2 separate regions of the Homo sapiens genome follow, and region 1 is reported to be linked to region 2. Evidence: microRNA targets listed by miRTarBase, many of them from high-throughput screens and not tested one by one. Region 2 holds a microRNA gene; the other region holds the end of a gene's coding sequence.

Region 1 (7,118 bases), not on the chromosome of region 2:
GCCAGCACTGGAGGGCCACCGTGCTGGGGCCTGGGCCCAAGGAGGTGTGTGTTGCTTGGCTCTGTGGTGTCAAGGCCCTGACCTTCCAGTGCACCTCCACCAGTGGCCAATGGGGATACCCGGGGGCCTTGGCTCTCTGGCCCTGCTGCTTCCAAATTTGTCAATGCAGTTACCCAGCCCTGAGCCGGTTAATGTTTGTGACAAGCTCCTCTTCCTCTGCAGCCTTGCTTTGGTGGCTGGAGGATGAGTCCTTCTAATGGTCAGGTGGACTTTCCCTGGGCTGGGCCATCTGCTGCCACCCGTGTTGAACTGGGAAGGACTGGGAGACACCTAAAGACTGATTACAAAGGATTCTCTGGAATGGTCCAGGTCTACAGTGACCTCATGGAGTGATGGGAACCCACTACTGTGCATCTGGCTACAAAAGCTACCTGCAGAAAACTGTCTTCATCCCAGCTGGTTCCAAAATGCTCCCCTGCGAACAGTGAGCCTCATATTTGTGAGGTGGGGCTAGCGGCAGGGCAGGCATTCACTTGTCTGTGAACAGAAGCCACCGCTGCTGCCCGGTGTATCTAACCATCTTGTACCCATAGGAGCCAGGTCACTGGGTCAGCTAAAGTTCTCACAATAATAGAACCTAGATTTGATGAAAGCTGAAATTGACATTTTCTGGCCTCTTAATAGTTTTCAATTTACTGATTTAATTTCCTTTTTTCAATAAATACTTATCCAGTGCCTAATATGTGTCAGGCACTGTTGTAGGCACCAGGATACAGCAATGAGCAAGACATATAAAAGTTCCTGCCCACATGGAGCTTACAGTCTATGGGAGATGGGGAGGCGAGAATCAAATAAATGGATGAATGATTAACATCTGCAGCACTCAGATGGTGATAGGTGCACAAGAAGAAGATGCAGAGAGGTGGGTAGGGAGGGAGGGTGGGGTGTGTTGTCCTTTTAAATAAGTCAGGGAAGGCCTCGTTGAAAGGTGACATTGGAGCAAAGACTGGCAGGTAGTGAGGGGTGAACCATGTGGCTCTCTGGGGAAGAATGTTCAGGTAGAAGGAATGGCATGTGCAAAGGCCCTGAGGCAGGAGGGTGCCTGTGACTAGAAACGGCAGGAAGGCCTACGTCCCAGGGCAGAGCAGCAGGCAGAAGAAGTACTGGGATGGGAGAGGCCTTTGTAAGGACCTGGCTTTTCCTCTGCCATGGGAGGCTGTTTCTTCGTTTAAAGGAGCACTCCAGTGTCTGCAGATAAATTCTAAAACAGCTGGTTTCACTCATTTGTCCTCATTAAATAGGTTGCTTTGGTCTTGAATAAATTCAGCCTATATTTACTCTTAAAACCAAATGGTACTCTTCGCCTTATGTTAAACTAACAAATTATGTATATATATATCCTTGATATGCTCTTTGGGAGGAATAAAAAGATGCAAGCAATGTGCATCATTCTGTATGTACATAATTAGGATTAGTGAGGCCCCCTTTTTTGGCAAGATTAAAATAGCAAAAATGCAATTTTCAACAAATCATTTGGCAAAATAAATAGAAACAGTAACATTACTAGCATGGTTGGAGATGATGGCTTCAGTGCTACTCTGCAACTACGTGTGTCTTCGGCTCAGCCTGGTGGGGCCAAGTTCTTCATACTGCACAGACTGCACATAACTGTTGTTCCCAAGGGGTCCCTGCAGGGCATCTCCCTCGCTCTTTTCTGCTGGGGGTGCAGTGGGGAGGAATAATAGATCTTTTGGCAAAGAAGGGACCTGCATAACTGCTAACAGGCCAATTTGCACAGTGCCCGGAGCTGTCTTTTGTGACAGAAGCTTGCAGAGTGGTCCAGCCTGGATGTGCCGCAGGGCCTCCTGGGGTGAGCGTGGGGGGCTCTCCCCATGGCGTGTGCTGGCCTCTCTATCGTGAACTACCCAGGACCCACTCCCGAGTCAGTGAGGCAGCACTGGCAGAAATACACTCCGGGCCAACAGACCCAGAGCTGTGGAGAGGACACGGGCAACAGGGTGGACTTGAATTAAACAAGAACAAAGCTGAGCGCTGGTCACTGCCCCGGCCAGCCACACTAAAACAGGCCAGCTAGAGTTTAGAGTCAGGAGTAAATGGGAAGGTGGTGCCTCAGATCTCTAGAGAGCCACCACTTTAAGGCGTTTTGGAAGGGGCCACCTGCTCCCTGGCATGCCAGCCACCTCTAGGCCCTTCATACGGTGTGTCTGTCCTCAGCTGGCAGCAGAACCGGACTCAACTAGAGCAGGGGCCGCCTCTGCAGCCCAGCGAGGATGAAGCCAGGGCTGGTAAGGTCTGTCTGGCCCAGCAGGGCTTGCTCAGCCACAGAAACACATTTCTTCTTATCTATTAGAAGCACTGAGGAAAGAAAAAGGACAGAACACTGGGGGTACTTAATTTTAAAGTCCACACCAAGATGAGGAGAAAAAAAATCATGGCCATAAAGAAAGGAGCCCCAAACATACAGTAGATGCCTTCAGCTTTTACTCCAGGTCTCTTCGTAAATAAAAGACTCACATGGAATGGAACTTACACACATGGATTTGGAAAAGTCTGTTTTTTCTTGTACAAATTTCCCACCACTGATAAGTACAGCCCTTTTATCTTAACCAATGGGAAGTATATTTTAAGTTTATTTTTGCAAAGTAGAATAGTTCGCAAAATAAGTTTGTGGACACTAAGTGGGGGGGGGGGGTGATGGGCCCATGACCCCTCCCCAGAGACAGGGCGGGCTCTGCATGGAGGATGTCCACACCCTGAGGTGTGCACCTGGGGGGCATGGAGAGTCCTTTTATCTTCAGCACCCCCAATTCTTGACAGTAAGCTACGAGAAGTAGTAAATTAAATCATTTGGGAAAACATTCGATTTGTAAATAGATTCAAATGCCACTGGGTGGTAATAGGTATGAAAAGGTCCACAGTAATTTAGTGAATACAAAGTATTCATTTAAGAGGAAAGGTGCAGTACCAAAATCCATGAACAGAAAAAAGGAAATCAAGCTTTCAATAAAAAAAGACACTGATACATTCCCACTTTCAGAAGGTATTTGAACAAGCAGCAAAAAGCGTTTAACCCCCCGGAGCCCACAGTGGAGCTCCTTCCCACCTCCAGTTACCCTTCCAAGGGACAACCCTGTGGCAATAACGGGTGCAAAATATTGCTCTGTGGCATGTTCTGAAAATAATACAAAAATAATTTTTATAGTACAGTTTAAACTTGGCTTGTAAAATTTCAACGTAACACAGCATAAAGTCTACCAACAGAATACACTGAAAAACACCTTCCCTTAACAATATTTTAAAAAAATCATTTACCCAGATAACAAATGTGCAGGAAATGTAAAGTAAATTTCTGAAATAACCTTCGCAGGGGTTTAGAAGTATCTGGGATCCTCTGGAAACCTGCAGTCCCTTGGAGACACCTGTCCTTCCTAGAAAGGGAAGTGTGGCCAGATCAGGTGGGGAAGGCTGCTCTCAGGCAGGGTCAGCTAGGGCAGCAGGGCCATGCACCCCGGTAGGACTCACCTTCTTCCCTTTCTCCCTGCTCCACAAAGGGCCCTCACGCCATGGAACACGAGGGAAGCCCTTGGCCCACATGCAGTCAACACAGTTTTTAATAGTTTCTGGCCAGCCTGCTGAAGTTGGTCTCTGGCCAGGGACGAGGTCTACACGCCTCTTCTCAAGGAGCATGCTGTCGGTGCACGGGACTAGCACATTTAATATGACCATCCGCTCTCTCCCTTTTGCATTTTTAATACTGTTTAGAGGAAGGATGGATCCAGCTCTCTCACAAAAGGAAATGGCTATTCCTAAGTCATGTGGACTGAGTGGTAATGTATCAGCCTGGAGCAGGTGTCTACAGGCGTCTGGCGCCTCGTTACCACATTGAGAAGCTGGGGTGCAGGATGCAGCCAGTGGCTTTATCTCAGGCTCTTATTTAGGGCACATCTGTCATCAGATGGTGATGGGTGGAGGTAACTTGGAAATGCAAGGGTAGAATAGGTCCTGGTGTTTTGATAATTACGTACTCTGCCTGGTTTGGAAGGTTTTCCTCTATTACAATGGACGGTTTTTATTCTGTTTTATTTTTTTATTTTTTAAATTAGACAAACCTGGCAGATAGCGTGAGAAAGAAAATATCTGAATTAGCATAGCCAGTTTTAGAAATTTCTGGTTGGCTGTTTTTACATTAAGAAATGAAAAAAACAAGCAAGAATTGACTTTATGCCTCCTTGACATCTTGTGCATATGAGTTTGGTTTCTGAATGGATTATTGGAGCATTTTTAAGGTTGGGTGTCTCAATCTTTTAAGAGTGACGAGCATGAGGAGTGGCTGGCATCCACACCTGAAGCAACACTTTCTGTGATCCCACAGCTTTGGATGCCAAAGCAGCTGCTCAGCGTGACACGAAGAATCAGTCCAGAAAGCTGCCACAGACCCTCTCCATGAGATTTTTAAAAAACCACTTTTGTTTTCTGAGTAATAAAAGAAACCCCAGTAATATTAGGGACATGGATGTTAGTACAGTAATTACCACACATTGAAAATATTGTTCAGCAGGAAAAGTAAAACTTTCAAAAAATTTCTTAAAGATCCTATTTAATAAATAATTTTTGATTTAAGGAACCACTTATGCAAAACTTGAACAAATTACTGAAAACTCCACCTGCTGTGGAATAATTAAAAACAAAAAGGCATTACTCACAGGAGATACTCAATTATTTTATTATAATTTCTCAAACAAGTAAAAAAAATCCCCTCGCCCCCCCTTTTTTTTTGTTTTTGCTGCTCTTTAGTTAGGGAAAAAAGCATCGTTTCTAGAGGAGAAGCTGGCTCCAGTGAAGAGATGGTCGACCTCCTGCTTTTTCTGAGGATACACTCACAGCAAAGCCAGGCGCTTTCTCCTGTCCTAGGATTATTAGAAGCTATTCTAAGGCTCTCACAGGTTTTATAGTATTCTTTGTTAGTGAGGATTTTACCCATCTTATCCTCATTTCTTGGAAACAAGCTCGTTCCTTAGTGAGGCAGATTTAGCTCCTCAGTGTCCTTGGCCAAGAACGGTGTTCTCCGGAGGTAATCTTGGAAGGAAGAGGCTGCATATTGCTGCTCAAAACAGGGTAGCTAAGGACACATTTTTTTTTTCCTCAAGAAATGTAGGAGGCACCAAAAAAGAGACCGCTCAGGGATCGGGCTGCTCCCTCATTGTGTCACGAGACGGAGGCAGGGTCGTCCTGCCCCGTGGAGGGGCCACGATCACAGTGAGTCCCTTTACCTGGCTGAACCCAGACAGATGCAGGTGTGGGGGTGGGCTTCCTTCCTGGTTCCCCCAGCCCCTTCCCTTTGGAAAGAGCAGCAGCCTAGTGGGGGCTTACACAGTGACCAAAGGGTCAATTCCTCGCTGTCTCCCGGGGCACCGATGGTCACCGCCCAGGGGCCCGCCAGCGACAGTCCACTGTGGAAGTGCCTTCAAAGGAGAAATGTGAGCAGCCTGTCCTATCTGCTCCTCTATGAGCAAATCCAAATTGTGAGATGGGAACCCTGCTTTTTGGACCCTAGGTGTCTTTGGAAAGCTCCTGTCACCTGAACTGCCCGGCACTGGGAGCCATCGCTGTACCTCACGGCGCCCGCGAGACGGGTGGTCCAGTGCCCTTTCCACGGCCGCCCGCGGCTTGGATGGCAGTGTGAATGGTGCTTGAGCCGGGGCTGGGGGAGGAGGTTTTGCTTATGAAATGGAGCTGTGTGTTTCTAAAGGGCCACAGTGACCACCAGGGCGTCAGCTGGCGGCCAGGTACCCGCCTTCTCCTAGGCCTCGGGATGGGAGGCAGGTAGAGCTCACAGAGGAGCCTCCACCGCAGCCCCGGGTGCGCGCTCGCTCTAAGCCCTGGGTACTACCAACCGCGCACAAGGGACCGCTACCTGGAAGAGGTCATCGCTAGGGTAGGAGAAAAAAAAAAAAGCAAAAAAAGCATGTAAAACACTCCCTTCTTAAAACAAAGGGCTGCGAATTTCTTTATTTCTCTTACTGAGGAACAAAAATACTCTTGCAATGGCTATTGAGTTTCCACAGGTACGAGGCAGATGCTAGGCTAGCACACCCACTTCCAACAGTATGACTTGTTTCCTATCCGTCTACTACCTGAGTGGCGTCAGTGTAGGTTCAGGCACCATTAGGAACGTTTGACCAAACACGTACACGGCACTGACAGAGGAGGCGCCGGCCTTCCGGTGGACCAGGGCATGTAAAAAAGACACCGACACAATGGAAAAGAAATCCTCGAAGGTAGAACCTCGCCGCCCGCGCCGCGCCGCGCCGCTCAGGGCCGGGCCCCGCGCGCCTCGCGCCGCCGCCGCAGCTCCTCGCGGTAGCAGTAGGAGCAGTAGTGCTCGGTCTCGGCGCGCCCGTAGAACGCACAGTTCTCGCGCTGGCAGCGCCGCTGCACCGGCCCCGGGCCGCCACGGCCGCACTCACCGTTCGAGCGCGCGGTCGGCGCGTCGGCGTCGGCGAACTCCAGGCCGTCGCGCAGGGCGCCGAAGCCGTTGGTGTAGGTCTGCGACTTGTGCTCGGCCGCCCCCGCCGTCCCCGCCGCGCCCGGTAGGGCCCCGGGCACCGCGCGCGCCAGCGACTCGACCGTGTTGACGGTGCGCAGGGCGGCGGCGCGCGCCGGGCTGTAGCTCTGCGACGACAGCGAGCGGTTCTGCTGCGGGTACGTGGCGCACGGCCGCAGCGCCCCCACGGCCGGCGCGCACGCCTCGTCCCGCGCGCCCGACGCCTGCACGTGGATGACGCTCTGGCGCGCTGGCGCCGGGGGGCTGCGGCCAGGCACTGGTCCGCTGGCGCTCGCACGCCGCGCGCCTCCCCCCGGGGAGGCCGTGCCGCCCGCCGCCGCCCGCGCCGCACGCCCTGCCGCGGGCCCGGGGCTCGGCCGCTCCTTGAGCTTGAGCACCAGCTGCGTGGGTGGGCCCGGAGAGGCGCGCTCCGGGACCGGCACGCCCTCCGTCTCCGGTCTGCGCGGCGGCCGCTTGGCCGTGGCGGCGGCGGCGGCGGCGGCAGCGGCGGCCGCAGTAGCGGCGTCGCGGCGCCGCTGCTCCTGCTCGGCGC
Region 2 (7,122 bases):
TTTAGTAGAGACAGAGTTTCACTATGTTGGCCAGGCTGGTCTCAAACTCCCGACCTTGTGATCTGCCCGCCTCGGATTCCCAAAGTGCTGGGATTACAGGCGTGAGCCACCGCGCCCGGCCTTATTTTTCTTTTTTTTTTTTTGAGACAGGATCCCACTCTATTGCCCAGCCTGGAGTGCAGTGCAGTGATCTCAGCTCACTGCAACCTCTGCCTCCCGGGTTCAAGCAATTCTCCTGCATCAGCCGCCCAAGTAGCTGAGATTACAGCCGTGCCTGGCTTATGTTTTGTGTTTTTAGTGGAGATGGGGTGCCACCATGCTGGCCAGGCTGGTCTTAAACTCCTGACCTCAGTTGATCCTCCCACCTCAGTCTCCCAAAGTGCTGGGATTACAGGTGTGAGCCACCGCGCCCAGCAAGCATAAGATTTTTTGACACATGGAGGATCACTTGCTGGATGTGCACTGAGAAGTAATGTGCCCATTTCCCAGCCACACTCTCCCAAAGGCTTTTACAGGCGCTGTCCCCGTGAGGTGGTAGAACAGAATGTCAGAATTCAACACATTCCAACACTGTCTTCTGTTGAGCTGTAGGAGGACTGCCTGTGGAGGGACATGGGTTCTATGCTACCTTGCAGGTTTTCCCTGGGGCTTGTGATCACTGTCTCCTTGGTGACATGCAATCTGGGAGTGCTTTCTGGAGTCTGATAAGAACATACTGGCACATTGCCTGTGACGTGTGGGACCCAGGCATTTTCAGTGCTGAGGTGAGTCCTTGATTGTAACTGATGGGGACTGGTATCTTAACTCCAGGTTACTGAAGACTAGGAATTTCTTGCCTTACAGTAAAATTGCAAAGAAGAGTAGCATAAGAGGTAGATCAGAAGACTGCAGAATAGATTAACAAATGAATGCCCAAATGAGGATGCTAAACTTGGATTTGCATCAAGAAGACAGATATTGGTCGGGCGTGGTGGCTCACGCCTGTAATCCCAGCACTTTGGGAGGCTGAGGCGGGTGGATCATCCTGGCTAACACGGTGAAACCCCGTCTCTACTAAAAAAATACAAAAAAATTAGCCGGGCGTGGTGGCAGGCGCCTGTAGTCCCAGCTGCTGGGGAGGCTGAGGCAGGAGAATGGCATGAACCCAGGAGGCGGAGCTTGTAGTGAGCCGAGATCGTGCCACTGCACTTCACCCTGGGCGACAGAGCGAGACTCTGTCTCAAAAAAAAAAAGGACAGGTATTAGGATAGTTTTGAAGCCCACTTGCTCCTATCATGGCATTGAAGCATCAGTTTGCTGCCAATCACTCCTTCTTCTGTGTTCATAGACAGGACTGTGGAAATGTACACTTGGATTCTTTCACAGGTAATGCTGAGAAATTTAAAACCAAAAACGGCCGGGTGCCGTGGCTCCTGCCTGTAATTCTAGCACTTTGGGAGGCTGAGGCGGGCGGATCACAAGGTCAGGAGTTCGAGAGCAGCCTGGCCAATATGGTGAAACCCCATCTCCACTAAAAATACAAAAATTAGCCTGGCATAGTGGCGGGCCCCTGAAGTCCCAGCTACTCAGGAGACTGAGTAGACGAGGAGAATGGCTTGAACATGGGGTGCAGAGGTTGCAGTGAGCTGAGATCGCACCGCTGCACTCCAGCCTGGGCAACAAGAGTGAAACTCTGTCTCAAAAAAAAAAAAAAATTTGAAATTAAAGTGTATGATTAGAGTGCATGATTGGTTCTGACTGGATGTGTAACATGTGCATAGCCTTCTCATAAATCAAAGGTTTTTATGTGAAACCTACCACTAGTGATGTAACTGAATTTGTGTAAATGCTGGTGTGTCTGCCTTTTCCTAGCAACTCCCTGGGCAGCCTGAGGATTCTTTGAGGTTATTTTTTTTCAAGATCTGGCTGGGAGCTTCTGCATGAGTGCTGTGTGAACGTCCTCCATCTGCAGTGTGAGGACAGCGAACCCTAGTGTGAGTTAACCACGTAGGAAGAGTTTGAAGTCAGACATGACATTCAGACTGAGGTCCTCAAAACTGAGGGGCATTTTCTGTGGTTTGAAAGGAAAGTGCACCCAGTTTTGGGGATGTCAATTGTGAATCCTCATCATAACCCATCCCCAGTCCCCCATCGCATTGCACCACATGGATGCACCCAGTGGACTGGCCTTTGCTTTTCTATTGTTTCTTTTTCTCTCCACTGCAATCAGCTTTCTCACGTTGAATGCATTCCATTTTCTAAGCGCTCTCCTAGGCAAAAATCCCTCTAATGCAAAGCAAAAATGTCTGTTATGCAACATTGTTCTGAGACCCCAGGAATTGCAGTTAACTTGGCTCCTTAGTATGTGCTTCCTAAGGCGGGTGGGGTGGCTCGCGCCTGTAGTCCCAGCACTTTGGGAGGCAGGCGAGGCACTTGAAACCCTGTCTCTACTAAAAATACAAAAATTAGCTGGACATGGTGGCATGTGCCTGTAATCCCAGCTACTTGGGAGGTGCAGACAGGAGCATCGCTTGAACCCAGGAGGCAGAGGTTGCAGTGAGCCAAGATAATGGCACTGTACTGCAACCTGGGTGACAGAGCGAGACTCAAAAAAAAAAAAAAGTGCTTCCTGTGAAGGTTTCCTTTCCCTTCTGCCCCCCATACCAGTCCATCTATTTAGTAGATGTCCTGGTTTCTACCCAGGATATCATGGACCAGGGGTTCTGTCTTCCAGCCTTGAGTACAATGGTGCGACTATAGCTCACTGCAGTCTCAACCTCCTGGGCTCAAGTGATCATCCTGCCTCAGCCTCCAAGTAGCTGGTATTACAGATGCACGTGCCCCCATTCCCAGAGGTTCTTAAATTTATGACAAAAACCCAGAAGCTTGGCTGAAGCAGCTTGTTGGGGCCCACCCACAGATTTTGTTTGGTGCCATAGACCTGGGTTGGGATCTGGGGAGCCATTTTTCTTAGTCTCAATGTAAATGTCTAAGCATTTTCTTTTTTTCTTTCTTTTTTTTTTTTTGAGACAGGGTTTCGCTCTTGTTGCCTAAACTGGAGTGCAGTGGCACAATCTCGGCTCACTGCAACCTCTGCCTCCTGGGTTCAAGTGATTCTCCTGCCTCAGCCTCCCAAGTAGCTGGGATTACAGGTGTGCACCACCATGCCCGGCTAATTTTTTTTTATTTTTTTATTTTTTTTATTTTTTGAGATGGAGTCTTGCTCTGTTGCCCAGGCTGGAGTGCAGTGGTGTGATCTCGGATCACTGCAAGCTCCGCCTCCTTGATTCATGCCATTCTCCTGCCTCAGCCTCCCGACTAGCTGGGACTACAGGTGCCCGCCACCACGCCCAGCTAATTTTTTTGTATTTTTAGTAGAGACGGGGTTTCACTGTGTTAGCCAGGGTGGTCTCGGTCTCCTGATCTCGTGATCTGCCTGCCTCGGCCTCCCAAAGTGCTGGGATTACAGGCTTGAGTCACTGCCCCTGGCCAATTTTTTGTATTTTTAGTAGAAATGGAGTTTCACCATGTTTCCTGCCTATCTCTCTATGTATTTAGACAGGGTCTCACTATGTTGCCCAGGTTGGTCTCAAACTCCTGGACTCAAGCAATCCTCCTGCCTCCACCTTCCAAAGTGCTGGGACTACAGGCTTGAGCCATCCTGCCTGACCATTTGAGAGTTTTTTTTTTTTGAGATGGAGTCTCTCTCTGTCACCCATGCTGTAGTGCAGTAGTGTGATCTTGCCTCACTGCGACCTCTGCCTCCCGGGTTCAAGCAATTCTCCTGCCTCAGCATCCCCAGTAGCTGGGATTACAGGCGCCCGCCACTACACCCAGCTAATTTTTGTATTTTTAGTAGAGACAGGGTTTCACCATGTTGGCCAGGCTGGTCTCGAACTCCTGACCTCAGGTGGTCTGCCCACCTCCGCCTCGCAAAGTGCTGGGATAAGAGGCGTGAGCCACCGTGCCTGTCTTCAACAATGATTTCTAATTGCATTTTATGGTGGTGATTGAACATAATGTACTTTGGTCCTTCTCCATTGTATGCCTCGTGTATTATGTGTCTCATAACGTCTGTCCCGTCCTATGCTATGTGTGCATTTGAATGTTGGGGAGGGTTCAGTAGATGTCCATTGAGTTGGTTTGCAAACTTATTTGAAACTTCTACTTACTTCTGCCTAATTCTGCTTATTATTGAGAGTGGACTGCTCTGGGATGCCTTTTGTTTGCACTCTGATTTCAGATGGACCCTGAGAATGCTCAAGCCCCAAACCCTCCTTGGGAAGTGAAGCTCAGGCTGTGATTTCAAGCCAGGGGGCGTTTTTCTATAACTGGATGAAAAGCACCTCCAGAGCTTGAAGCTCACAGTTTGAGAGCAATCGTCTAAGGAAGTTGATGGCAATGTTAATAGTTTTTTAAACAAGCATGAAATCAGATTCCTGTGTTTACTTCTGGATGCTGTTGATCCAGGAAATGTACTTAGAAAATTCATTTTAACGGAAATAGTCATAAGCGTCTTGGTAATTTCATGAAGCTACAGTGAGTAAATTGCCTGAGAATTTCCCTGCCTGAAAGGTCTTCAGGAGTGTAATTTTTTTTTAATATAGCTTATTTAATACAAATAGAGATGCGGTCTCACTCTTGCCTAGACTGGTGTGCAGTGTCATGTTCACAGCTCACTGCAGCCTCTCAACCTCCGGGGCTCAAGCATCCTCCTGCCTCAGCCTCCCAAAGTGCTGGAATTACAGGTGTCAGCCACCACTCCCTACTCATACTTGTATATTTCTCTTTAAATTCTGTTGAGGTTTTATGGCCTAGCCTGTGGTCTATCCTGGAGAATATTTGTGTGCATGACAATGTGTATATATATATATATATATATATTTTTTTTTTTTTTTCTTTTTTTTGAGATGGAGTTTCACTCTTGTTGCCCTAGCTGGAGTACAGTGGCATGAATCTCAGCTCACTGCAACCTCCGCCTCCCGGGTTCAAGCGATTTTCCTGCCTCAGCCTCCCGAGTAGCCGGGATTACCCTCCACCACACCCGGCTAATTTTTGTATTTTTAGTAGAGGTGGGGTTTCGCCATATTGACCAAGGTGGTCTTGAACTCCTGACCTCAGGAGTCCCGCCTCGGCCTCTCAAAGTGCTGAGATTACAGGCGTGAGCTACCCTGCCCAGGCTGACCATGTATATTCCTAATTTTTGTACTTTTTTTTTTTTGAGACGGAGATTCACTCTTGTGGCCCAAGCTGGAGTGCAATGGCATGATCTCGGCTCACTGCAACCTCTGCCTCCTGGGTTCAAGCAATTCTCCTGCCTCGGCCTCCCGAGTAGCTGGGATTACAGGTGTGCACCACCACGCCTGACTGACAATATATATTCTTAAACAGCTCAGATTCCATTTTGGATCCTCCCATCAGGACTGGAACTTAGGTGTACTGGAACTTAGGTGAACACTTGGCTCAAAATTCATTGCTGTTCTCTATAAATCTAGCCAGTTCTCTTGGTTAAATTTAAGGTATGTATAGTAGTCGCTGCTTTTTCTTTCGGGGGACAAAACTCAGGAGGATTGCTTCTTGATTCATAAGGGCAACCTGTTGAGATTTTCACGCAAGGAACCCGAGATGTTCATTTAATGGGCTTATAATTTGGGATTCCAGAACACATGCAAACAGGGCAAATGAATGTTTGGCTGTATCTTTATTTTTGTGTTCATTTCAGCCTGGTCAAGGTTTTAGAATCCAAGGAAACCAATAAACACCCAGAGTGCTGGAGCAAGACTGTCTCCTGCTGTGACCCTCAAGATGGAAGCAGTTTCTGTTGTCTGAAAGGAAAGAAAGTGCTTCCTTTTTGAGGGTTACTGTTTGAGAAAAGCAACCTTGAGGTTGATGCTGATGTTTGTAACACACCTGCAGAGTATACTTATAATCAGACTTGGGTGATGTGAGGTTTTGTTTTTACTCCAAGATGAGGGTCTCCACCCAGGCTGGAATGCAGTTGCCCTTCCAACCTAGAACTCCTGGGATGAACTGGTCCTCTATGCCTCAGCCTGCCGAGTAGCTGGGACTATAATATAGGGGTGTGCCGCCATATTTGGTAGATTTTTCAATTTTTTGTAGAGATGGGGCCTCACCCTGGCCAGGATGGTCTCAACTCCTGAGCTCAAGCAATCCTACAGGTGTGAGCCACCGTGCCCATTTTAAAGATAGTTGACATGATCAAGCATAGTGGGACACACAGCCCCAGCTACTGCAGAGGCTGGGGTGGGAGAGTCTCTTGATTTCAATGCTATACCGTGCACTAATGACACCTTTGAATAGCCACTGCACTCCAGCCTGGGCCAACATAGCAAGATCCCATCTCTTAAAAAAAAATACATTACATGGCACCTGGTTCCAGAGACACCATTTGTGTTGGTCAAACAATGGCCTCCTATAAATTTAGTTTAATGAATCCAAACCATGTTTCCTTCATTAAGAGAGTAAATAAGCCTCCAAGTCTATCCAGTCTTTTTGAGACAGAGCTTGGCTCTTGTCACTCAGGCTAGAGTGCAATGGTGCAATCTCAGCTCACTGCAACCTCTGCCTCCTGAGTTCAAGGAGTTCTCTCACCTCAGCCTCCCAAGTAGCTAGAATGACAGGCGCCTGCCACCATGACCAGCTAATTTTTGTGTTTTTACTAGAGATGGGGTTTCACCATGTCGGTCAGGCTGGTCTCGAACTCCTGACCTCCGTGATCCACCCACCTCAGCCTCCCAAAGTGCCGGGATTACAGACGAGAGCCACCACGCCCGGCCTGTCCAGTCTTGTTCTGCAGTCCCCAATGGGGATTTTTTTTTTCCTGTTCATTTGTCTTTTTATTTTAATCTACTTGTCCCTGACACTGAAAATTTTTCCTTCCTAACAGCTTACCATCATTTCTCAGAATAGACCTGCTTCCTCTGTGAGAAGCTTATAGTTGATTCAACCCTCAACCACTAATGCCAACAACCCTAGTGAGTTCTTTTGACTACAGCTGGACCATTTATCCTGTTTCCTGTGGGTAGCGGTTCCAATGTACCATTCCAACAGGCAAAACCTCGCCTCTGAATACAGGTTGCTTGGCAAGATCTAAAATGTTTGCTGTGCCTAATATAAACTATT

The links. The annotated mature microRNA hsa-miR-1323 reads UCAAAACUGAGGGGCAUUUUCU and lies in region 2 at 2,031-2,052, shown strand. An mRNA with a match to its seed (bases 2 to 7 or 8) in the 3' UTR can be bound and repressed. Matches are read on the target gene's strand: a 7mer-m8 pairs with bases 2 to 8, a 7mer-A1 pairs with bases 2 to 7 and ends in A, and an 8mer does both.
Region 1: miRTarBase lists OTUD7A as a target of hsa-miR-1323. Seed matches in the 3' UTR shown: 7mer-A1 at 5,127-5,133 and 7mer-m8 at 4,655-4,661.

What each region holds. Positions count from the first base shown.
Region 1 is chr15:31,476,961-31,484,078 of GRCh38, forward strand. It overlaps OTUD7A (OTU deubiquitinase 7A), which reads right to left. Exons shown (of 13, transcript NM_001382637.1): 13 at 1-7,118. The coding sequence ends at 6,334. Among named protein-coding and RNA genes, the nearest start is that of KLF13, 150 kb to the left of the region's middle.
Region 2 is chr19:53,669,948-53,677,069 of GRCh38, forward strand. It overlaps MIR1323 (microRNA 1323), which reads left to right and starts at 2,021; the gene lies at 2,021-2,093. MIR498 (microRNA 498) reads left to right here and starts at 4,250; the gene lies at 4,250-4,373. MIR520E (microRNA 520e) reads left to right here and starts at 5,764; the gene lies at 5,764-5,850. All of the region lies in intron 2 of LOC107985342 (a long non-coding RNA gene), which reads left to right. RefSeq lists an enhancer at 1-97.